7 linked regions of the Homo sapiens genome follow. The protein of the gene in region 1 purifies or fractionates together with the protein of each later gene. This does not show direct contact. Each region holds a gene or a part of one and is shown in the gene's direction. Other genes may lie near its edges.

Region 1 (3,500 bases):
GATGAGGCTAATTTGACTAAAATGGACCTGGAGAGTCAAATAGAAAGTCTGAAAGAAGAACTTGGCTCTCTATCAAGAAACTATGAAGAGGTAGGAGGGGGCTGGGGTTGCTGGGTTGGCCACAAGACCAGAAGTTCACATCTGTCTGCCTGTGCTTCATAACAAGGCCACAGTAGCTCATTTCTGACTCTCCACATTGCGTGCCCAGGACTGCAGGGAACATACCTGTAAAATACTTTCAGATCCTTGAAGTGGGTCAGGTTACCCCAGCAGTCTCAAACTCAAATAGCTTCAGGAACCAGTGTGGTACAGAAACAGGGGAAGGCAGCCAGTCTTGGCACTAGCAAATGAGGGAACTTGTGTTAAATTAGAGGGAGCAACCCCTCCTCAATGCATTCTATGTCAGGTTTTTTTTTCAACACTGTATTATACAAACAAAACAACTCTGAGGGTAGATCCAAGCTGTGGTTGACATCTACTCATTAACAAAACTGGGTCAGATTATTGAGTGACAGAACTGAAGAGGACCTCCAACAGTTATGGGGTCTAGTTCCCTGCGAGACTTCAGCAATTCTAAACCACCTCACACATATTACTGTCTGATCCAAGATTTAGGCTGCTTCAAGTTGAAAGAGTCAAAACCCACTTAACGATGCTCACATTGGGAAGTTCTTTCTTGAGACCAACTTAAGCTAACCAGCAACTGTAAGCCCATTTCTTCTTGTTCTTAGCTCAGTGATTTAAGACTACTCTCCAACAGTAACCATTTAGAGATGCCAAAGTTATCTTTTAAGTCTCTTTCATCCTTGTCTGGCTTTATGCATAAATGCCCTGTGCTGTTGTTGCTTACTTTGTTTTTGTTTTTGTTTTTGTTTTATTTTACTTTAAGTTTTAGGGTACATGTGCACAATGTGCAGGTTAGTTACATATGTATACATGTGGTTTTTTGTTTGTTTGTTTGTTTGTTTGTTTGTTTGTTTTATTTTGATTTCTGCTTTGGGCCTGGGCTTGTGGAGACCAACCTAAGAAATGCATCCTTGGTGCTAGGCATGGTGGTTCAAGCCTGTAATCCCAGCACTTTGAGAGGCCAAGGCAGGGGATCACTTGAGCCCAGGAGTTCAAGACCAGCCTGGGCAACATGGTGAAACCCTGTCTCCACTAAAAATACAAAAATTAGCTGGGCATGGTGGTGTGTGCCGTGCCTGTGCCTGTAGTCTCAGCTACTCAGGAGACTGAGGTGGGAGGACTGTTTGAGCCCAAGAGATGGAGGCTGCAATGAGCTGAGATCATGTCACTGCACTCCAGCCTGGGTGACAGAGTGAGACCCTGTCAAAAAAAAGAAGGAAGGAAGGAAGGAGAGAGAGAGAGGAAGACAGACGGAAAGAAAGAGAGAAAGAGAGAGAGAAAGAGAAAGAAGGAAAGAAGGAAAGGAAGGAAGGAAGGAAGGAAGGAAGGAAGGAAGGAGGGAGGGAGGGGGAGGGAAGGAGGGAGGAAGAAAGAAAGAGAGAGAAGGAAAGGAAGGAAGGAAGGAAGGGAGGGAGAGAGGGAGAAATGCATCCTTGGGAAAAGAGAAATTACACTTACGCTGGGAAGAAGGTCAGGGACTTTCCCAGTCTCTGTGAAGCCTGTGTCTGGCAGTTGTGGAATGAGAAAAGAATTGCCCACAGAGCTGGTTTTCTGCTGGCTAGAATTCTATGCCATTTATTTCCCCCCGTAACTCATCTAAGATGTATATTGTTGTTTTCAGGATGTGAAGCTGCTGCACAAACAGTTGGCAGGGTGTGAGCTGGAACAAATGGATGCTCCCATTGGCACTGGTCTGGACGACATCCTTGAGACGATCAGAATTCAGTGGGAGAGAGATGTTGAAAAGAACCGGGTGGAGGCAGGAGCCCTGCTCCAAGCTAAGGTGAGAGGCAGGACCAGCATCCTCCACTCTGCCCTATGCAGAAGGAGGCCACGCTGAGCTGCAAACTAGTCAATGTGCAGACGAAGAAATAACAACGGTTTAGTAACAAGTTCAACCTCATTAGAAACAGAAGAAATGAAAATTAAAATAATAGCTTTTTGTTTACCTATCTAAAAGTAGAAAATGTTTAAAATGGTAAAAATGCTGGCAAGTATGTGGAGAAGTAGGTTCTCTACTGTATTACTGAAGAGCATAAACTAGTGCACTGCCTTTGAATAAGAAATTTAGTAATATGCACCAAGAGTGTTAAAATGCCCCTAGCTACCAACTGAATAATCTGAATACAATCCTGAAAGAATAATTGAGGCCGGGCGTGGTAGCTCACGCCTGTAATCCCAGCACTTTGGGAGGCCAAGGCGGGCGGATCATGAGGTCAGGAGATCGATACCATCCTGGCTAACAGGGTGAAACACTGTCTCTACTAAAAATACAAAAAATTAGCCGGACGCATTGGCAGGTGCCTGTAGTCCCCGCTACTCGGGAGGCTGAGGCAGGAGAATGGTGTGAACCTGGGAGGCGGAGCTTGTAGTGAGCCAAGATTGGGCCACTGCACTCCAGCCTGGGCAACAGAGCAAGACTCTGTCTCAAAAAAAAAAAAAAAAAAAGAATATTTGAAAAAATAAATCATCTGTGTCCAAATATACTCACTGAAGCATTATAAGAGTGAAAAAAACATACACATTTACTAGTAGAAGAAAATCTAAGCCACAACCTACCTATGTGCAGTAAAATATCAGGCAGTTATTAGAATTAATGTTTATGAAGCATTTATAAAATAGGAATGTGTTCATAATATGAGGTAAAATGAGGAGAAAATGAGAGTACAGAATGGTATATGCCAGAAGCCAAAAAATATTCTCTGTAAAGGACCAAACAGTAAATATTTCAGGCTTCTTGGGCCAGATGGCCTCTGTTGTAACTCCTCAGCGCTGCCACTGCAGTGTAAAAGCAGCTGTAGCCAATAGGTAGCTAATGAGCATAGCTGTGTTCCAATAAAACTTTATTTACAAAAATAAGCGGTGAGATGGATTTGGCCTGTGGACTGCAGTTTGCCACTTCCTGGTATATACAGTAGGGTAAAGCATTCAAACAAAGAAACTAGGCATTGAGAAAAAATTTTAGAAAGAAAAGACTAAAATGGGATTAGCAGTCGTTGCCTTTGAGTGATGGATCAGTCTGACACTTTGAGATGTTTTTTCTTTTTTGTTTTTGAGTATTTCTCAAGTTTTTGTTAAATAGTATACATTATATTCATGGAAGAAAAACAACTTTTATTAAACCTCATAAATAATACAGGAATTAACCAGAAAATAGGATGCATAGGGTTTGTTCTTCCCTTCTCCATCTCCCACCCATTTCTGACTTTGTAATCTTGAGACAGAGGATGAAAAGTGACAAGGAAGGAAAATGTGGAAAAGTAGAGAAAATAAGGTAGATGTCTGAGTTAAGGCAAAAGGCTGTTTCTGAGCTCTTGATTACTATTTAGTGGTTCTTGATCCTGGCTACGCAGCAGAATTATTTCAGAGCATTT
Region 2 (3,500 bases), on another chromosome or scaffold:
GCTAGTCAAAGTTCCAGAACTGATGGTCCAGTGAGTCTCTTCCAAAACGCCGGTTTCACGATTTCAGCACTTCTGGCAGCATCTTCCTAAAGTGAGGGCACACAAATTCATAAGATTCCACTTGGCCTTAAAAACAAAAACATCTGTTTTATGCATGAGTGGATTGTTGTCTTTTATTCATCCAGCCAAAAAAGGACAAAAAATAGGATACTGAACATAAAAGCATACATGTAAAAATGAAATTACAAAGGGATTTGAGATTAGCAAGCAGCCTTTTATAAAGCAAGCTGTTAATAATTTTTCTTTTTTGTTTTGCCAGAGTATTTCCATATCCTTTAAAAACCACTGTAGTTATCCTTACTGACAGCAGTGACGTCTAACAGTGATGACAGAATTTTTCAACTTTTTGCTTCCGGTAATTATACTTAGTTCTTTGTACTTGCTTATTTGGTCTAGTGCAAGACTCGTAGCATATTTGTAGGAGATTTCTTTTCACCTTAGAGGAACATTTGTACCTGCCTCCCTCTATTTTTAAAGGAGTCTGTTTGTGAGGGCTCGTTAGTCTGGTAAATTCTAGTTAAATACTTGTTGACATAAGTTGAAGCATATTATTAAGTATACTTGCTTGAGTTTTCATTTTGATGTAAAAGCATGTAATAAGAAGAAAGAGGTTTTGATAGTAGAAAAGAGTAGGTCTACTAAGATCAATTAAGAATTTTATTAAGGGTCTCTTTTTCCTATTAATGTGTTTTATTAATTCATCTGTCAGGATTCACATTGCTGGTTTACTGTCATTAATTCTGTTGCCACAGAATACATTCCTCATGGCTGGATTTAATGGATACTATGTTCAGTTTTTCAGTTAATTTTAAGAGGGAAAGTGATTTTAAGACTTGCAGTATTTGTTTATTTTAGCAGCTGTCTGCATCATTAAAAATGTAAATATTATCATTAAGTAAGATGTGAAAGAATGCTTTTGAATTGAATGAGATTTTGATACAAAGGCTGATATTCCACGTCAAACCTGTAGCTAAGTATTTTCCCAGATGTATTTAATTTTTTTCTTCATTGACTCCTGTTGTGCTGTCAAAGGTTAAAGTTAGTTCTAGGGGTGGGGGAGATGCATGCAACTTTCTAATTCCATTTCAATTAAATCTGAAATGTTCCTGTTTTTTGTTTGGGGACTACATGGTGCTAGGATTGCATATACCTTGTTTGTTGTAGTGAAAGCGTACTTGTCTGATTTAAAATATGTTCTGCAACAGTGTTATTACAAAGCAATTAAAACTTAAACATTAAAGTTAACATTAGTAAATTTAAATAGCTCTGTTATAGTATTAATCAAATAGTGTAAGGAAAGCTTTTAAATGGTTTAAATAATTATGCAACTCCTGGCATAAAAAGCCCGACACAAGATAAATCTCTGAAAACTAAGTAGAATCGCAGCTTTTTTTTTTTTTTTAATAAAAAACTTTAATTTTAGGCACCTTGGGCTTTTAGCATGCATCACATTCCACCTCTAGTATAAGTAATTATGCCAGTTTAGTAATTATTAGAGATGAAAGAAATTCAGTAAGATATGAATTCTTTAAAACTTCAGTAGCTTCAGTTTTAGCAGGGATAATGATCAAGCAGCAGTTATCCTGCTGCCTGGGGACCCTGCCACAGCTACAAGCACTGGGCTGATCTTGTGGGTATCATTATTATGGCAGCACATACTATAGTTAGTATTTCTACTCTAGTTGTCAGATTGCAGAGGTTTATAATTTGGTCATTAAACAAATTTAGATTCCAATATGACTGTGTAAAAACTCCCCTTTCTTAGAACACTTTTTAAAAAAAGATTAAGTTTAAAAATTATTATTTTGGGGCAGCATCTCTTTTAATTCTATGGGATAGTAAATGCTTTGAAAAATCCTGAAAAGAAAAAAAATGTGTATGCCTGTCATTTTTATGTGTGTATGTGTTAGGTACGTGTTCATTTTGAATCTTATTTTTAAATAAAGATGATTTGGTTTGGAAAGCATATATACTATTCCCGCATGATCATAGCTCTCCCAATCTGAGCAAGGTCAAGTGATTGACATTCAGAATATTTGTTTTCATAATAGTGCAGTTTGTTGGATTTATATTTCAATATTTTGGTTATGATAATTTTTTTGTATATGTGAAACCCAAGAGTTTACGTCCCTCAGTTATCACAACATATTGTGACACACACATACATAGTCTATATACACGGAAACATACTCTAAACCTTCTGTAGGAAATGCACTTTGTTTAGTAAGTCCATATAAGTGTTAATAATGTTTTAAGGGAAAAATTGGATTTTTTTCCAATTAAAATTGGTGTCAAAGAATAAGATTTCCTTTTTGAAATTAAAATCAGCGTATCATTGAGTCTCATTATTTCACTGACTTTATTACCTTCTCTTTCCATCTTATGATTGGCTTTTTCTCAAAATTTATTATCCCATCAGTATACTGTGAAGGATATGATATGTCAAGATGGAAACTTATTTACCTGATAGGGACAAAATCCTCATTGATTACAGACAGTTCCATATATTCATACAAAATACATTTGTTGAAACCTGTAGTGAGGTGAACAGTCCACACAGTAAACTATAACTTGCCATATTATAGGAGTTTCTGTGACCTGGAATCTAAAAAATATCACTGTGCTTTAAACTTTATATTGACTTCAAGAAACAATTTCCAGCATTTCATACGTGTTCTTAGCTAATATTCTTATCTTTCACAATAGAGCCAGATTAGGTCCAGTTAGTGCTTGAATAAGACTACATATTAATTGCTTTCAGCATTCCTAATGATTTAGGTTGTCTTAGTTGTGTTAAGTTTATCAGACATATGCTTTTTATTACCACTATCAGCACCTTTTGTCTTTCATTGATTACTTTTATACATTAAGAAAAAGAAGGCCAGGCGCGGTGGCTCACGCCTGTAATCCCAGCACTTTGGGAGGCCGAGGCGGGCGGATCACGAGGTCAGGAGATCGAGACCATCCTGGCTAACACGGTGAAACCCCGTCTCTACTAAAAATACAAAAAATTAGCCGGGCGTGGTGACGGGCGCCTGTAGTCCCAGCTACTTGGGAGGCTGAGGCAGGAGAATGGCGGGAACCTGGGAGGCGGAGCTTTCAGTGAGCCAAGATGGCTCCACTGCACTCCGGGCTCCAGCCTGGGCGACAGAGCGAGACTCTGTCTCAAAAAAAACAAACAAACAAACAAAAAAAAAACAAAGGAAAGAAAAGGAAAAAGGCTGTAAAGTCTTCACAAACATTGATCTACCAAGTACTAATGAAGCCAAAACAGAATCATTGCTTGAATGCTGATGTATGGAGTCTGAAGTTCCTATACATAGGGGGGTTTGGGGTTGTCAGTGTGCAACTTGCAAAGTTGTATGATGTTTTGCAGACATGAGGCAAGGGTTAAGAAGAACTGTGGGCTCAAGGGAGTGCATATTAATTCCTGGAAAGAG
Region 3 (3,500 bases), on another chromosome or scaffold:
CATTTTCCACATTCCAACAAGCAAGAAAGGGAAAAGGGAAGGAGAAGGAAGAAGCCATGCCCACTCTCTTACGGGCATAGCTTACATCCCACAGGCCAAAATTCAGTCACATGGCCGCAGTTACCTGCAGGACAGGCTGGGAAAGATTCTTTTTCCGTGGCCATATATTCAGCTAAAACTCAGGGCTTAATTATTGAGGAAGGGGAGAGAAAACATTGAGTTATATTTGGCAGTCTTTGATTCACATAGCTAGGTCATACAGTTCTGTGAGTGAGGCTTAGCCAAGGTTTAAAAACCTGATTGTGATAATCTCACAGTGGCCACCGTCTCTCATGATAATCTTGTGATGGCTGCTCTGTCTGTAAGAACTAGTAAGTTAGGACTAGCCAAAGAAGATAAGATTTAGCCATGCATTTGATTCTGTGCTTTAAGAATGTCTATCCTTAGACTTGAATAAGTATATACTTTTGTGCATACTTACACAGTTAATTCTGCGTTGTTAATCTACGTCTAAGCTTTTGAGAATATACTGCTGTATTTTACTGCAAGATGAAGGGCTTGTGAAGTAATGTCTTTATAGTAGCAACTAAAATGACAAGTTGTTTCCGTCATTCGTTTTTATAAGAGCTAACATGGTAAAACAGATAGCCACGGGTGCGCATGGTTTATTATAATGCTGAGAGTTTCCAAGTGTTACATGTTTCTTCTTTGGCTTCCCAACTTACGCTGCCATTGGTGTCCACGCAGCTGTCTTGCTTTCACATTCCTGTGACCTCAGTTATTTGAGGAGGTGTTATAAAGAAGTTCTTGGAGTTGGACCATGGACCAAAGTCTGAAACATTATCATTTTATAGTACAACACACCTTTTCTCATGGTAGGTGTGGTCCAGGGAGAAGGTGCGCATGGTTTATTATAATGCTGAGAGTTTCCAAGTGTTACATGTTTCTTCTTTGGCTTCCTAACTTAGCTGCCATTGGTGTCCACGCAGCTGTCTTGCTTTCACATTCCTGTGACCTCAGTTACTTGAGGAGGTGTTATAAAGAAGTTCTTGGAGTTGGACCATGGACCAAAGTCTGAAACATTATCATTTTATAGTACAACACACCTTTTCTCATGGTAGGTGTGGTCCAGGGAGAAGGGACTCTCTCAGTTTGCTCACAAGGAGCAATATTTAATTAACTGCCATGTAGAGGGGAAATAGAATTAAAATTAAGTTCTTATTTCACATCAGAGGTTATAGATTAGATATTTATGCTCTTAGAGTATGATTCTAGAAAATCTTCTAGGGCAGAAAAACGTGCTGAGTACAGGATAACAGATGGCCCTAAAGTGAAATTTCATATGAATAGGTTGTGTTTTATTAATTTGCCACATAGTTTTGGTGCCTACTTTGTGAAATTCGTGGGGTGGTAAGCTCTAAGGGAAGGGCCTTTTTGATTCATCTCTGTTCATCGTCTTAGCACAGTCCTGGGTGGTTGCCAGTGCCCAGGTGCTTTGGGAGACTGTAGAAGTTGTAGTCCACACACACTCAAACCTCATATTTTATATTCAGTCTGTAACCTTTTAATATTTCTTGACATTGAAGGAAACGGTTAAATATGATTTTTGTGAAAACTTTAAAAGGTTCTTAGTCACTTTCGGGTTTACAGGAAGTTTGTAGAAAAGCCCTGTGCTCGTCTTCATATTATTATGTGAAAAGTATTAATCAACTAATTTAGAATGGCTTTGAGCCCAGGAACTGTGCCGTAGGAATCTGCAGATGTGATTATCTGCCCTTTTAAGACTATTGACTGTAAGAGCTGTGTGTGTGCACCATAAAGCAACAGCAGGCTGCCAGCTTTTCTTGCCTTCAGCCGGGAGCCCTCAGCTCTCCACTACCCAAGGGACCAAATATGTATTTGTCTGAATCGGTTGAAGCCCACACATCAGCCTAACTCTCTCAGCTAATTTACCTTTCCCCCACCTGCACTAGCCCTGTGCTAGCTAGTGGGATGCCTGCTTTGTTCCTAACTCCCTTACCTAATTTATCTTCCCCCTACCCCCGCATGAGCCCTGTGCTGGCTAGTGGGACACCTCCTTTGTCCTGTGTATGGACCTTGCTATCAGTTCTTGAAGATTCCCCACCTTGGCACTGTCACCTGGTCAGCACCACATCTTCTGTGGCATGATTCAGATAGTGTCTCCATAATGGTGTTTTCAGCCCTACAGCTGAGGCTCCTGTTACCTGTTCTGTACAGATCCTTTGGCACTTAGAGCATACTGTCTGGCCTTGCTGTGCAACTAGGCTGTGAGGCCGCCAGCCACCTGCCTGCACTACCATTGTACACAGGAGGTCTTTGGTAAGGGATGGCTGGCTGTGGATGGTGATGAGGCAGTACAGGAAAGATCCTTGGTGAGTGGAGATTATTATTATTATTATTTTGAGACAGAGTCTCTGTTGCCCAGGCTGGAGTGCAGTGGCACAATCTTGGCTCACTGCAAGCTCCGCCTCCCAGGTTCACACCATTCTCCTGCCTCAGCCTCCTGAGTAGCTGGGACTACAGGCGCCTGCCACCACGCCCGGCTAATTTTTTGTGTTTTTTAGTAAGAGACGGGGTTTCACCGTGTTAGCCAGGATGGTCTCGATCTCCTGACCTTGTGATCCGCCCACCTCGGCCTCCCAAAGTGCTGGGATTACAGGCATGAGCCATCGCACCTGGCCGAGTGGAGATTATTTTTGCTTACTTTGGCTTTGTGTGTTTTGCTATGGGGGAGTTAATGGTATTGGTTTCTTTGGAGAAATTCATGACCTAGGAGAGCTATGGAGGAAGGGCCACAGCTCTTTTGTCTCTCCCTGATTTCCAAAATACCACCTCACCATGGTACTGCCTTGCTTTAGAAACTTCAGTGGCTCCCCATTGCCTTCAGAATCACATCTGAATGGTGGAGCAGCCTTTACACTCTTATACCTTCTACCCTTGTCTCCCAGTGCTCTTTAAGCAGCCACTTTATGGTCCCGTTTCCCATGTATGTGGGAATTTTGTCCTTTGCTCTCCTTCTCCTCCTGTCTGCTCCCTGCTCCATCCTAAGCCCACTCCAGTTTCAGGGACCACAGAGAAGCAGTTACCAGCAGCATGGAGTTTGAGAAAGGCTTCATCACAACAAGGCTTGAGAGGCTGGAAGAATTCGCCTGGCAAAGGAAGGAAGGGATTTGCCGTATGAAAGGCACAGCATATGCAGATATACTGGAGTGAGAGGGCATGGCACGTTTTGGGAATGATCCTTTAGCACCTAGCCTACAGTCTGAACCAGCTGGGACCTTGGTACTCATTGCCTGCAAGCTGCCCCCTCTCTGCCCCCGAAAAGGGACCCCTTTCATAGCAACCTGGACGGGTGTGTAATTAGCCTGTAATGGCATCAGCGGGTTTGCCGTGTTATGAGTCTGCTCATTCTGCTGTTCTTCAGACTGAGCTTGGGAACTGGGCCTCGAGCCAGCCTGCTTGTGAGCAAGTTCTAGTTC
Region 4 (3,500 bases), on another chromosome or scaffold:
TCTTAGTTTGTTTTACATACATTTTACCTCTTTAAGCACATGAGCATTTAGCATTAGGTTTTCACAATTGGATGCTTCCTGGTGTTTTTATATAATTTTTTTTCTTCTAGTTTCCTGATAGGGAATTTCTCTTACGTGTATCTTACATGGAAATATACAATGAAACCATTACAGATTTACTCTGTGGCACTCAAAAAATGAAACCTTTAATTATTCGAGAAGATGTCAATGTGAGTAGCAGACTTAAGGGAGCTTTAAAATTGACTGACTTATTGAGATTATTGTTCTTGAATGTTTACCTTTAATTTCTATAGTTTTTAAAGTGTCTCCTATTTCTATAGTATGTGAGGGTTTTTTTGAAGTATTTATATTCATCTTTTAAACAATATGAATAGTTTTAAAATACTGACAGCTCTAATATTTTGGTTTAAGTGTAAAAATAGCAAGTTGGAAGTATCAGGTTAGAATTTGTTGTGCTTTGGTATGTGAAATAAATTGTGGGTATTCATAGAATTATTTGTTACATTCCTACAGAATTATGGTTCCATTTGCCACTTTTAACTTTCACAAATGAATTCTATAATAGTTTGCACCTTCTTTTGAAAAGCAAACTTGTGACTTCTATTTCTCTAATCTTTCCATAATTAAACTTGTTTCAGAGGAATGTGTATGTTGCTGATCTCACAGAAGAAGTTGTATATACATCAGAAATGGCTTTGAAATGGATTACAAAGGGAGAAAGTAAGACTTTATGCTGTATTTCTTTAGAACACTTGTAAAAACTATCTTTTCAATCAAGCACGTTTGGACCTCAAATCATACTTTTTTAAGTTAAAATAAAAATTATTGTGTTTCTATGGATTTTATTATATATGCAGCTGAAATATAACTCATTTTTACAGAGAGCAGGCATTATGGAGAAACAAAAATGAATCAAAGAAGCAGTCGTTCTCATACCATCTTTAGGATGGTAGGTAATTCTATCTATCTGTTAGATCTTTCCAAGTAAGAATGCACTAATTTTTCTACAGCTTGCCTTTTCTATCTAGATTTTGGAAAGCAGAGAGAAGGGTGAACCTTCTAATTGTGAAGGATCTGTTAAGGTATCCCATTTGGTGAGTATTAATGAACCATAATAATGTACTGTATGGGCCAAAACAAAATTTAATTTAGTTGCTGGATGTTTGGTTTAATAAGAACTGTTAACTAAACTAAATGTGGGAGGAAATCTACAAATTGTCTGCTTAGTCTTGTCAGTATCATCAAATTCCTAGCTAAAATGTCGTAGGAAAAATTCAGAGGATCTTTCTTCCTGTTATGTCATGGTTGCCATCTCCTAAAATTTAAATGTCAGGGCTATAGGGTTATAGGAATTGATGTTTTTTCTAACCACTAATGCAGTAGAATTTTTTTCTATACACATTTAACACTTTAGATCATCTTAGAATTTGAGGGTCTTTTTGTAAAATCTCAGCCAATGTAATTTAGACTTATGTGATCAACAAAAATCTAGGTTGGATGGTTAAAAAGTAATCACATTACTTTAGGTTTTACTTAAGTACAACAATAAAATATATTTTGTATTGTAAACGTAGTACTTTAGACTGTAAATCCATTGAGGAGTGATACTGCATTCATCCTGGTAGCCCCAACACATTATACCTATTTTATGTCTAATATAGATTTGCTGAATAAGCGAATATATGCATTATGCAAACATTCCTATATTCCACATTAGTAAACCTTCACTTCCTTCTTTCCACACTAAATTATTGCTGTTTCTTTCTTGCTCCTTTTCTATCTTTTACCATATTGCTTTATTCTGCATTTTTAGGGCCTAAATTCTTTAGCTTGATGTGGGATATGATTTAAGATTATTTGATTAGAAAACTTCAGGGAAAAAAGCAATCTATAATATGTTTATTCATTTTCAGATTTTATAAAATTAGATTATTAATTACTTAATATTCAATCCTAATTTCACCTTAGCTATTTTGCTATAAAATTGTATAACTTATTTTAGTAGACTTTAATCTTGTTTTAATTTAACAATAAAAAACCAAACCCTAACCTCTTTAGTTTTCTCATCCAAGACTGTGATATTTCATATAATTTTAACTTTTAATAATTTAGCTTTAATACTCTTGGCATATTCAGTGATCTACTTGATGATTTTCCTCATGTTACGTGATGCTCTGTCATTTGTGTTCCATCTGTTCCAACCCTCCAGCCTACCCACTTACTCTAAGAATCTTCTTGGAAAGAAGTCTCTAAAGAGTCATCTCTGTCTCTTTAGAGGTGGCTCTTTTCTGATTATCTCCTGGCCTTGGTGGGATGATAATATCCAGTTTCTCTTAGCTGTACTCCTCTGTTTTCTACCCTGGCTTCTTTTTCCCTACCCTCCTAAAAAAATAATTAAAAAAAAAAAAACTTGGAGGTATTCTGTGACGTTTCTTACTCAAGTTCTTGCTCTCAAATGTTCTGTCATCATTTCCATGTTGATGACTGCCAAATATTTTACCTATAGTCTCTGAATTCTAATTCATGTCTTCCTAAAGATGGTTATAATTGTGTCCCATCATTATCTCAAACTTTAATATGTCTAAAACGAAACTATTTTCTTCCTACCATAGTGAATATTCCTTATTTCCAGTAAAACCAGCATTATCCTAGCTGCCTAAGCTGGAAACCTAAGTCAATTTTGACTCATCTTTTTCTGCCTTTCTCTTTGTCCACTTGTCCCATTTCTTACTGATCCTACCTTTAAACATTTCCATGGGTGCTACACTCATTTACTTTCTCATCTCTCTTGAATTACTATGTCAGTCTCCTGGAACCTTGTCTCCATGACCCTTGTCTTTGTTTCTTGAAGTCATCATAAGGATTTCGAATATACTAACCATTGCTTTTGTATATCACTTCCTGGGGCAAGATTTGGCCACTCTTAACCAATCTAACTTTATTTCCTTCTGCTCTACATGAACTCCTCCCTCATAGATTGGGCCTCTGAGTATCTTTGAATATGAATGCTTGTTCTCATCTTTAACCTTCACTCATGCTGCCTTCATTACCACTTTGCCCTTTTATTATGTATCTGTGTCATCTGTAGTGGACACTGTGCAAGAAAAATTAGCCTCCTTAACTGGTAATACATATTTACCTGCCTAGTCTCAAAAATCTCCACAGAGAGAAATAACGTAAAGCTTTGACTTTCTTTCAAATCACTCACAATATTTACTAAGTTGTTATTGTCTTCTGAGCATGGTGTTGGGCTCTGAGATTAAAAAAACAATAAACAAGACACCCCTTCACTGCTTCTCTTACAAGCAGTCTCCTCTGCCACCTCCCTAACCCAAGCTGGTATTATCTCTCACCGAGATTCCTGCCCCAGCTGCCTGATGGGGCTGCCTGCAGCTGCTCTTGCCCCTTCCCAATCCATCCTCCACCCAGTAGTCATAGTGGATCCATTGTGAGAGTCATTGCTGAGCTTTATGCAAGGT
Region 5 (3,500 bases), on another chromosome or scaffold:
AGCGATTGTGAGACCAAAAGTTTGATAACTGCTAGCCTAACAAACTAGCCAAACTTAGTGTTGAGAATTAGTGTTTAAAATGTGTTAAAAACCTATCATCAGCCTTTATTGAAATATAAATTGTGTTGAACCTGATCTTTTCTCGCCCTTTTCCTGACTTTTTACATTGCTTGTCAACAATATTCTACCTCTTTATTTTATTCTTGGAACAGGTGCTACTGAATGAACTATTTCAACCCTTTCCTCAATTCCCTTCTCTTTTTAAAAAAATTTTACCTGAGACTGGGAGAATGTTAGAAGTGTGTAATCAGGCAGCTAAATGCTCTAGTAAGAATAATGATATCTTGAGGCAAGCTGCAGTCTAATATAATATAATGAATGCATATTAGAAATCGACTTTATTATTTCCTATCTCTAATGAATTGATACATAATAGGCCATATGTGATGTGTCTAGTGCAGCGTATCTCTATGGTCCACATGTACTTTCTATGACAAGAATAAACAAAACTGGGAGAAATGACCGGATTTTAAATTATCATTTCACAAAGTCATGTTTCATAAAATATATTGAACTGAAGTCTTTCCTTGAAGTTGTGATGCCAGTTTCCTGTTGGAGCAGAAGTTGGTCTCAGTGACTATGTGGCCTGAGGCAGGGCCTGAGACTGGGAGGTCCAGCAGCTCAGGAAGGGGAAATGTGTGAGACTAATGGGAGCCAAGCAGGCACTTTGGTGAGAGACAGAGATGCTGACTCATGCGCCAGTGAGATGTGTGCATGTCTGAGATCACATGTGTCATTTGCTTACCTGTGAAATGTGTGTGGGCATGTGACTGTGTGTTTGTCCCTGTGACACATCTATTACTCAGTAAGCAGGACAGTGCTGTTTGTGGTAGGTGTTCCACACATTAAATGGATGAGCACACAGCTTTTCACAGGTGGAATCACTGTCTCAAAGTATTTCCCTCAGTTGTCATAGGGCCTGAAATCTCTCTAATTCACTGGGCGGAGACACTGTGTTCAAGTGGCCGAAATGACAATGTTAGTATTTTACTGATGACATTAACAGTGATTAACATCTCAGAGAGGAGCTGTTAGTGGGTGTTGTCCTTGATCATAAGCAGATACCCAGAAAGCATGGGACAGAGGAGCCGTGTGAGCTGTGGTGGCCTGGCAGGAACCTGGATGCTGGAAGGGAGCTCTGGAAGATGTTGGGCTGGGCTTTGGGGATGGGGTTGACTATTATTTGCCAGTTTCCACCTTCCCAGAACCAGTCCTATCTACCTTTCAGGAGGAGTGCCACTCCCTCTTCCCAGATGTATGCAACACAACACACACACACACACACACACACACACGCACACACACACGCAGAGAGAGAGAGGTTAGTAGCCCTTTCAAAGCCTTCAGACTCACCTGTGTATATTTTATATCATGTATATTTTACCAAGTTTCCCTGTCCTGCATCTTCTCTTCCCATAATGCCTATCTTGAATCCTGTTCACTCTTCCCCATATGCTGCTGGTACAGACTGTATTGGTGATCACGTACCGAGAACCCCCAAATCCTGAGTATCAGGAATTCCAGAATCGTCTGCTGATAAGAGCCCGGGAAGACTTTGGTGTGGAGCTGGGCCCTTCCCTGGTAAGTAGATCTCTCCCTTCCTGAGAGTCAGGTCAAGCTTTGGGGAAGGGCTTCTCTCCCAAACTCAGCATCAAGTCTTGGCTGTGGAGCAAGCCCAACTTTGGGGGGTCTCCGCTTCTGTCCAGGATTTTTCCTTCTGCCCTATGGAGTAGTTAGGAAGGGATGGCACTTTAGGAATAAGAGGGAAGAAAGCAAACCAGAAGAGAGAATAGGTAGAAGGGAGACCCCAGAGAGAGGGGAAGGGGCCTTGCAGGACATTTGGAGAGTACTGCTGAAGTTGCCACCCCCAGATGAACCTCATCGCTGGCTGCTTCTATGATGGGATCCTGCTATATGCTGAAGTCCTGAATGAGACAATACAGGAAGGAGGCACCCGGGAGGATGGACTTCGAATTGTGGAAAAGATGCAGGGACGAAGATATCACGGTAATGAAGAGGGGTCAATGGGGGTCTGAGGGCTGATGTCAGGAATAGAGTGGGCTGAAGAAGAAACAGATGTCAGGATCACCACAGCTTTAGTGGGGGTTAGTGAATATGGCAGAGTTGCCCACACCTCAAGATCGGGGAAGGGTAGACTCTGAGGGAGCCGTAGGCATGAGTGAGTGGGAGAGGAGCCCAGGGTAGACCTCAAAGAAAGGACACTCTTTTCTGTCTTAGGTGTAACTGGGCTGGTTGTCATGGACAAGAACAATGACCGAGAGACTGACTTTGTCCTCTGGGCCATGGGAGACCTGGATTCTGGGGACTTTCAGGTGATGGAGGAGGAGGCAGGGAAGAGAGTGTGGCCCTGCAAAATCCAGCTTTCAAGGGTTCAGTCGGGGCAGAACCAAAACTACTAGATGAGGGATTTGTTTTCTCTGCTGGCACTGCATCCTGGCTGGGTGGTAGGCTGGGGAGAAAAGCAGCGAAACAGCTGGGGTCTGGGGAGGAGGCTGGTGGGAGCAGGCCTGTGGGCCCAGCTTTTTGCTTCCTTACAGCCTGCAGCCCACTACTCGGGAGCTGAGAAGCAGATTTGGTGGACGGGACGGCCTATTCCCTGGGTGAAGGGGGCTCCTCCCTCGGACAATCCCCCCTGTGCCTTTGACTTGGACGACCCATCCTGTGATAAAAGTGGGTGTGTGCAGGGACTGGGAGCAGCTTTCCTCCCTTTGCTTTCCATTCATGGCCTCCACCCTCACTGACCCTCCACTCTTAACTGTGCTTCTGCCTTTACGTCTGCATCCCTCCCTCCTCATTTCTTCCTACTCCCAAGGAGTCTGTCTATGCACCTATGCACCCCGTTCTCCATTCTGCCAAGTCCGCACACAGTCTTCCTCAGGGTCTCTATTTCCCCTTCAGCTCCACTTTCAACCCTGGCAATTGTGGCTCTGGGCACAGGAATCACCTTCATCATGTTTGGTGTTTCCAGCTTCCTAATTTTCCGGTGAGTTCTGGGTTTCTTGCTGACCTACTCCCTGCCCCCATTGCCACACAACCTCTGGCTGAAGCCAGGTGGTCCCTATAATGTGGGATAGGGTAGTAGGTTTCTTAATTTGCTGGTTGTCTCTTAGATCCAACAGCGTCTTCCTCTCTAGCCTTTCTCTTTAGTTGTCGCTTAGCCTAGGTGTTTGTTCCACTTTTGGTCCTAGACTGGATATACTAACTAGTGTTTTTCAGTGGGGTTAAGATCAAAGGTGAATTTTCCATTGGTCTTCTTTTAGGAAAGAACTTTCACCCCCAGTCTCTGTGTTTGTTAGTGAGCATAGGGCATGTGCCAGATATGCCGAGAATGCAGCCTTATCTTCCAGCCCTGTCTCTCAGGTGTAACAGTTGCAGCTTCAGGAGCTGCAGGGAAGCCCCTGCAACCCTGCTGTTGGCTT
Region 6 (3,500 bases), on another chromosome or scaffold:
AGGGCATTTTCTTTCCTGGGGTCTGTGCTGACAGACTGGGAGGGTAGTTGCATACTCCCACTTTGCTGTATCCAAAGGGAAGGGGTTCCCGCCTAGGCAATCTTTCTTTTGTAGGTAGGGCTTCATGCCAAGCAAGAAGAGCTGGTTCAGCAGACAGTGAGTCTTACTTCTACCTTGCAACAAGACTGGAGGTCCATGCAACTGGATGTGAGTATTTGGGACCATCATAACTAATTCCTTACTCACATCAAGTCCTGTTGTGAGCTTTGCCTCAAGTGTGCTCTACTGACCTGCTTGCTTCCCCTGGTAGTATACAACATGGACAGCTTTGCTGAGTCGGTCCCGACAACTCACAGAGAAACTCACAGTCAAGAGCCAGCAAGCCCTGCAGGAACGTGATGTGGCAATTGAGGAAAAGCAGGAGGTACAAACCAAGAGTGGGGACTGCTTAGGCTTGGTTTCCTTCCTAATGTGTGATACCATTAGCCTCTTACCCTGGATCTGTTTTCTTTTCACCCTGTGGGTTTGGAGGCCAGCCAGTAAGGTCTCTTAGCTGTAAGATGGCCTTAAGCGCAGTTTTTTCCTTTGCCCTTCAGCATCTTTACTTCAGCAACTTTTCTCCTGTCTCTACTTTTTCCTGAGGATCAACCTTATTTTCTGCAATGTTGATGCCCAGGAGCAAGGTAGTTTTCTGTCTTGTCCAGAAAGAGAAGCTGGACCAAGTCCTGGGATTATTGATTCAGGAGGAACTATAGGAGGAAAACCATCTGTTCTTCCTAGGTTTCTAGGGTGCTGGAACAAGTCTCTGCCCAGTTAGAGGAGTGCAAAGGCCAAACAGAACAACTGGAGTTGGAAAACAGTCGTCTAGCAACAGGTGTTTGTGTGTGTGTGTGTGTATGCATGCATGTAAGCATTTGAGCCCTGTTAAGGCTTGGAGTGTGGCACTAGAGCAAGGAAGTACTCAGGAGCACTTGCTTTGGAGCAGAAGTTTGGGGAGTTTCTAGCCTGCTGACCGCATGGTGTCATTAGGATACTTTTGTTCTAGATCTCCGGGCTCAGTTGCAGATTCTGGCCAACATGGACAGCCAGCTAAAAGAGCTACAGAGTCAGCATACCCATTGTGCCCAGGACCTGGCTATGAAGGATGAGTTACTCTGCCAGCTTACCCAGAGCAATGAGGAGCAGGCTGCTCAGTGAGTTCCTAACGGGGTACTGTGGCAGTAGGCATCCAGGATTTAGGACCAAATGGGATCTAATATGTTGTCTCTGGCAGATGGCAAAAGGAAGAGATGGCACTAAAACACATGCAGGCAGAACTGCAGCAGCAACAAGCTGTCCTGGCCAAAGAGGTGCGGGACCTGAAAGAGACCTTGGAGGTAAGGAATATGGCTTGGGCCAAGGGAGCTGGTAAGCCTCAGGAGTGTGATTCTTGCCTGATAGTGTTGAGGTAAGGTTTGAGACTGTGAACTAGAAAAAGCCTCTGTACCCAGGGCACTAAAATTCTCCCTCCCTGTCTTGCTCCTTCTCTTGTCTTCCCAGTTTGCAGACCAGGAGAATCAGGTTGCTCACCTGGAGCTGGGTCAGGTTGAGTGTCAATTGAAAACCACACTGGAAGTGCTCCGGGAGCGCAGCTTGCAGTGTGAGAACCTCAAGGACACTGTAGAGAACCTAACGTAAGTTCTCTAACTTTCTGTACTTCCCCCTAAGTGCTTATTTTTTTCTCAGGAACACTTCTAGAAGCCAAAATCTCCAAGAAGAGAACTGTGAGTGTTGAGCCTCTTGTTTCTCTCCTTTAATGCAGCTCTGTGGGGATTTGGGATAGGCGTTCAGAGAAGGTAATTTGGTCTTTGGTCATCTTCCCTGTTCCTTATTTCAGGGCTAAACTGGCCAGCACCATAGCAGATAACCAGGAGCAAGATCTGGAGAAAACACGGCAGTACTCTCAAAAGCTAGGGCTGCTGACTGAGCAACTACAGAGCCTGACTCTCTTTCTACAGACAAAACTAAAGGAGAAGGTAGGATCCTGGGGTTCCTTCTCTTCTCTTCCAATTGTATCTTTATTTTACAGATAGTCTTCCTAAAACATTACTCTTTTTCTAACTGTGACCTTTTATGATTTCAGTTACCTACAGGACCTCATTAGCCTGTTGCTCAAACCTTTCTTCCCCTGTCTCCTATCTCCCTATTATGAACACTTTGCCCCAGCTAGACTGCCTGTATGCTACACACATGTCCCCATTTTTATCCCCAGAACCCAGACTCTGGCTGTTCCCACATTCATTCTATTCTTTCTTCAAACTGGAAATGCCTTTTCTATTAAAATCCTCCCTTCCGACCTGGGCAACGTGGTGAAAACCATCTCTACAAAAAAATACAGAAATTAGCCCAGGTGTAGTGTTGTGAACCTGTAGTCCCAGCTATCTGGGAGGCTGAGGTGAGAGGATCACCTGAGCCTGGGAAGTTGAGGCTGCAGTGAGCCATGATCATACCTGGCTAATTTTTTTGTATCACTGCACTCCAAACTGGGTGAGAGTGAAACCCTTTCCCCCACAAAAAAAGAAATCTTCCCTGGTTTACCTTCTTTGAACTGTTCCCAAATCAAATCATGTGGACCCGGTGATCTTTTCTTCTGCCATATTTCTCATGAACTTACTCTTCTTTTGTATTTGTATTAATTTTCCTTGGATACCTGGTCTCTTCAACCAGACTATGTTTCAAGAAAGCAGAAATATAGCCTTCTTTGGCCTCCCTGCAGTGTGCACTAAACAATAAATGGTTGACATCATTCAGAATACAAAGGTAATTAGCTTATTCAGCAGATAAGGCACAACAAATATCCTAAAATCTGGCAATTGCTTATGACCTGATCCTCTTCCCCAACTGGGTACCGAGCACAGGAAATGCCATCAAATCTACAGTTTAGCATGGAAGACAAACAGATGTAAACTTGTCATCTTGACTTATGATCATGGTAGAGGTCTGCATGGACCACTGTGAGAGATAGAGAGGGGAGCACCACTTCAGCCTTCGAGAATTAGGATGCCTTCTCAAAGCAGCTGACCTTGGGTACAGTCTTGAGGTTTAGACGTTTGTGGGGCAGGGGAGGGTATTTAGGAAGTCCCACTAGGCAGAGGGAACGGTGTATGAAAGTTTCATCTGACTACATATGAGAGTCGTACGTAGAAAGTCATGCACATAGTACATGATGTGTTCTTTTTTATAGTGTCTACCTTATAAAACCTGGGTTAGGTGCTGGGACTAGAGGATGAACAAGGCAAGATGCTGCTCATATGGAATGCAGCAAGTCTGAGGAATGGGAAGCAGCTCTTCATGGCTGCAGCGTGAGAGCTCTGTGGGGCAAGGCAGGAGACAACACTGGAGAAGTAGGCAGGAGGCCAGATTTTGAAGGCTTGAAATAATGGCAGTTTTATAGGCAGTAGAAAGGAGAGGATGGAGTGAATGGATTCAATAGATATTTAGGAAGCAGAGGCAGTAGAACC
Region 7 (2,902 bases), on another chromosome or scaffold:
CCTCCTTCTAACTCACTGGGTTCAACAAAGATGAACAAAATGTCCATATGTCTGAAGCTTCATACTTGACCTTGGGGTCTCAGAAAAGAATTGAACTTTCTTCCTTCTGTTTTCCCCTGCTCCCCGGTATCCTGCTATGCCCTCAACCCTGAGCGTCTCTAGAGACCTCACTGCAGTCTGGAGGGGGAAGTGCCTAGGGGCGGGCGCTCACGGTAGGCTGTGCTGCTCCTCTCTTACCACCCCCACCGCCACCCTCTGCCCCCAGGGAGAACAGCAGCAACATCCTGGACAACCTGCTGTCCCGCATGGAGCAGTACGCGAACAATCTGGAGGAACTGGTGGAGGAGCGGACCCAGGCATACCTGGAGGAGAAGCGCAAGGCTGAGGCCCTGCTCTACCAGATCCTGCCTCAGTGAGTGCCTGAGTCTGGGGACCCCCCCCAACACAAAGCCCCTGTCCCGACCCCCAACTCTGATCCTGCACCTGCCCTGACCCCTTAGCTCAGTGGCTGAGCAGCTGAAGCGTGGGGAGACGGTGCAGGCCGAAGCCTTTGACAGTGTTACCATCTACTTCAGTGACATTGTGGGTTTCACAGCGCTGTCGGCGGAGAGCACACCCATGCAGGTAGGCCAGGGTTCAGCCACAGGTGCCAGGCAAGCTCAGCATCTGGATCCCACCAGACCTGCCTTCTGGTTCTGCTTTACCCACCTGACCCCAGGTGGGGTCCCCTACTTCCTGTCTCTCTTAGCTTCTCTTCCCTTCCAGGTGGTGACCCTGCTCAATGACCTGTACACTTGCTTTGATGCTGTCATAGACAACTTTGATGTGTACAAGGTGAGGGTGGGAGTGGGGATGGGAAGGGACAGACAGACATGGACAAGGTCAGAAAAAGATGAGGGGTAGGCAGAATGATGTGGAGTCTTAAGAGAGGAGATCGGGGACACGGGCAGAGACAGTGACACAGGGAGACCCGGGAACAGGCAGAGAACCCATGTGGGATGGGGGATGAGCAAAGACAGATGAGGGTACAGAATGACAGACGCTGCACCCGGTGTGACGGTGTGGCCGGCCGCACAGTTGCAGCCGTCAAGTCCTGCACCCCCTCGCCACTCCCACAGGTGGAGACAATTGGCGATGCCTACATGGTGGTGTCAGGGCTCCCTGTGCGGAACGGGCGGCTACACGCCTGCGAGGTAGCCCGCATGGCCCTGGCACTGCTGGATGCTGTGCGCTCCTTCCGAATCCGCCACCGGCCCCAGGAGCAGCTGCGCTTGCGCATTGGCATCCACACAGGTAAGGCCACTGAAGGTGCAGGCGGGCATCCAGAGGCCAAGGCTTCGCAAGGGAAACTTGTCCCCTGGCCCAGCCCCTCGCCCTTTCATCTCTCTCTCTCTCTCTCTCTCTCTCTCTCTCTCTCTCTGTCTCTCTCTCTCTCTCTCTCTCTCTCTCTCTCTCACACACACACACACACACACACACAGAGCTGGGACCTCAGATCCTGCCTCCTGCCTGTCTTGGATTGTCCACCTACCTCCCTTAACACCCCTCCCTCCCTCACTCGCTGATGGGCTCTGCTCCTTCCCTTGCTCCTCCCAGGACCTGTGTGTGCTGGAGTGGTGGGACTGAAGATGCCCCGTTACTGTCTCTTTGGGGATACAGTCAACACAGCCTCAAGAATGGAGTCTAATGGGGAAGGTACAGTGCCCCCTCCTAGAGGGAATGGGGAGGGCAGGGTGGCTGAGGGAAATGCCATCCTGGGGCAGCCTGTGCCTGCACAGCCCGTTTCAGCTCCTAGCCCTTTCGCCTCCCAAGTTCCCCTTCTCATAATATTAAGAGTTCAACCTGGGCTCATCAACTTGACTGTAACCAGAGACTCAGGTTCCTGCTGCCCCTCTTGTCAAACGATGTAAAAGTATTTCCGGGCCAGTGCTGGAGAGTTCCCAGCAGGAATCTGATTTTAAGACCCTCTGTGGGCCGGGCGTGGTGACTCACACCTGTAATCCCAGCACTTTGGGAAGCTGAGGCAGGCGGATCACCTGAGGTCGGGGGTTCGAGACCAGCCTGACCAACATGATGAAATCCCGTCTCTACTAAAAATACAAAAAACTAGCCAGGTGTGATGGCAGGCTCCTGTAATCCCAGCTACTTGGGAGGCTGAGGCAGAAGAATTGCTTGAACCCGGGAGGCAGAGGTTGCGATGAGCCAAGATTACACCACGCACCCCAGCTTGGGCAATAAGAGTTAAACTCTGTCTCAAAAAAAAAAAAAAAAAAAAAAAAAAAGACCCTCTGCTCCACCTTTGATGTGGTAAAGATGGCTTCAGAGCCAGCATAAGTGAGGCTGTGAATCTCAGCTCCACAGCTGGCTGTGTGTCAGTTTGCTATACCTCTCTGAGCCATGGTTTTCCTCATCTGTAAAAAGAGGGAAAAAATCTATCTCACAGGAATTATGTGAGAAACCCATTAAAAATGTCTACCACATAATTGTCATTTAACTTTTCCAAGCCTTAGCGGATTATCTGTAAAATGATGTCTATCTCAGGATTGCAAGAAGCCTAGCACAAACCCTGGTACCCAGCAGGCACCTAATAAATTCTTACTCCTACCCGCCCCTTGCTCTTGCCTCCTGTTTATCTTCTATCCTTCTGCTGTATTCGACACAATTCAATGCAGTAAACATTTATTGAGTGACTACTGAGTGCCAGGCCCTGGGATAGTAACATGGCCCAGATCCAGAGTTAGCTGAGAAATTCATGTGGACCCCATCTAAACCTTATGGTGAAAGAAAGGCTGCTTGGGAGCCAGTCCTGGGAGCCCAGAGGGATCTAGTTCGGCAAATATTCCCTGGGCACTATTTTGGGGGCTGTCAGAGTACAGCCCCTTGTTGAGGGTCCAGTCCTCAA

The links.
Region 2: the proteins of BFSP2 (region 1) and ZNF521 purify together in Homo sapiens (affinity purification with mass spectrometry; one large-scale study listed by BioGRID and IntAct). This does not show direct contact.
Region 3: the proteins of BFSP2 (region 1) and ZZEF1 purify together in Homo sapiens (co-immunoprecipitation; one large-scale study listed by IntAct). This does not show direct contact.
Region 4: the proteins of BFSP2 (region 1) and CENPE purify together in Homo sapiens (affinity purification with mass spectrometry; 2 studies listed by BioGRID and IntAct, with this or other methods). This does not show direct contact.
Region 5: the proteins of BFSP2 (region 1) and NPR2 purify together in Homo sapiens (co-immunoprecipitation; one large-scale study listed by IntAct). This does not show direct contact.
Region 6: the proteins of BFSP2 (region 1) and SPAG5 purify together in Homo sapiens (co-immunoprecipitation; 3 studies listed by BioGRID and IntAct, with this or other methods). This does not show direct contact.
Region 7: the proteins of BFSP2 (region 1) and NPR1 purify together in Homo sapiens (co-immunoprecipitation; one large-scale study listed by IntAct). This does not show direct contact.

The regions. Positions count from the first base shown.
Region 1 is NC_000003.12:133,448,556-133,452,055, forward strand, and holds part of BFSP2 (phakinin), read left to right. Parts: coding exon 1-90; intron 91-225; exon of another isoform or gene 226-340; intron 341-1,747; coding exon 1,748-1,909; intron 1,910-3,500.
Region 2 is NC_000018.10:25,342,167-25,345,666, reverse strand, and holds part of ZNF521 (zinc finger protein 521), read left to right. Parts: intron 1-319; exon of another isoform or gene 320-415; intron 416-3,500. UniProt on the Homo sapiens protein: Transcription factor that can both act as an activator or a repressor depending on the context. Involved in BMP signaling and in the regulation of the immature compartment of the hematopoietic system.
Region 3 is NC_000017.11:4,136,531-4,140,030, reverse strand, and holds part of ZZEF1 (zinc finger ZZ-type and EF-hand domain-containing protein 1), read left to right. Parts: intron 1-3,500. UniProt on the Homo sapiens protein: Histone H3 reader which may act as a transcriptional coactivator for KLF6 and KLF9 transcription factors.
Region 4 is NC_000004.12:103,191,844-103,195,343, reverse strand, and holds part of CENPE (centromere-associated protein E isoform 1 precursor), read left to right. Parts: intron 1-110; coding exon 111-230; intron 231-659; coding exon 660-741; intron 742-902; coding exon 903-970; intron 971-1,049; coding exon 1,050-1,115; intron 1,116-3,500. UniProt on the Homo sapiens protein: Microtubule plus-end-directed kinetochore motor which plays an important role in chromosome congression, microtubule-kinetochore conjugation and spindle assembly checkpoint activation.
Region 5 is NC_000009.12:35,798,091-35,801,590, forward strand, and holds part of NPR2 (atrial natriuretic peptide receptor 2 isoform 1 precursor), read left to right. Parts: intron 1-1,527; coding exon 1,528-1,641; intron 1,642-1,931; coding exon 1,932-2,067; intron 2,068-2,298; coding exon 2,299-2,393; intron 2,394-2,618; coding exon 2,619-2,751; exon of another isoform or gene 2,752-2,755; intron 2,756-2,979; coding exon 2,980-3,064; intron 3,065-3,500. UniProt on the Homo sapiens protein: Receptor for the C-type natriuretic peptide NPPC/CNP hormone. Has guanylate cyclase activity upon binding of its ligand. May play a role in the regulation of skeletal growth.
Region 6 is NC_000017.11:28,582,026-28,585,525, reverse strand, and holds part of SPAG5 (sperm-associated antigen 5), read left to right. Parts: intron 1-114; coding exon 115-207; intron 208-310; coding exon 311-424; intron 425-780; coding exon 781-874; intron 875-1,045; coding exon 1,046-1,193; intron 1,194-1,273; coding exon 1,274-1,376; intron 1,377-1,539; coding exon 1,540-1,673; intron 1,674-1,876; coding exon 1,877-2,015; intron 2,016-3,500. UniProt on the Homo sapiens protein: Essential component of the mitotic spindle required for normal chromosome segregation and progression into anaphase. Required for chromosome alignment, normal timing of sister chromatid segregation, and maintenance of spindle pole architecture.
Region 7 is NC_000001.11:153,688,688-153,691,589, forward strand, and holds part of NPR1 (atrial natriuretic peptide receptor 1 precursor), read left to right. Parts: intron 1-265; coding exon 266-412; intron 413-500; coding exon 501-624; intron 625-765; coding exon 766-834; intron 835-1,017; exon of another isoform or gene 1,018-1,106; intron 1,107-1,118; coding exon 1,119-1,293; intron 1,294-1,596; coding exon 1,597-1,695; intron 1,696-2,902. UniProt on the Homo sapiens protein: Receptor for the atrial natriuretic peptide NPPA/ANP and the brain natriuretic peptide NPPB/BNP which are potent vasoactive hormones playing a key role in cardiovascular homeostasis.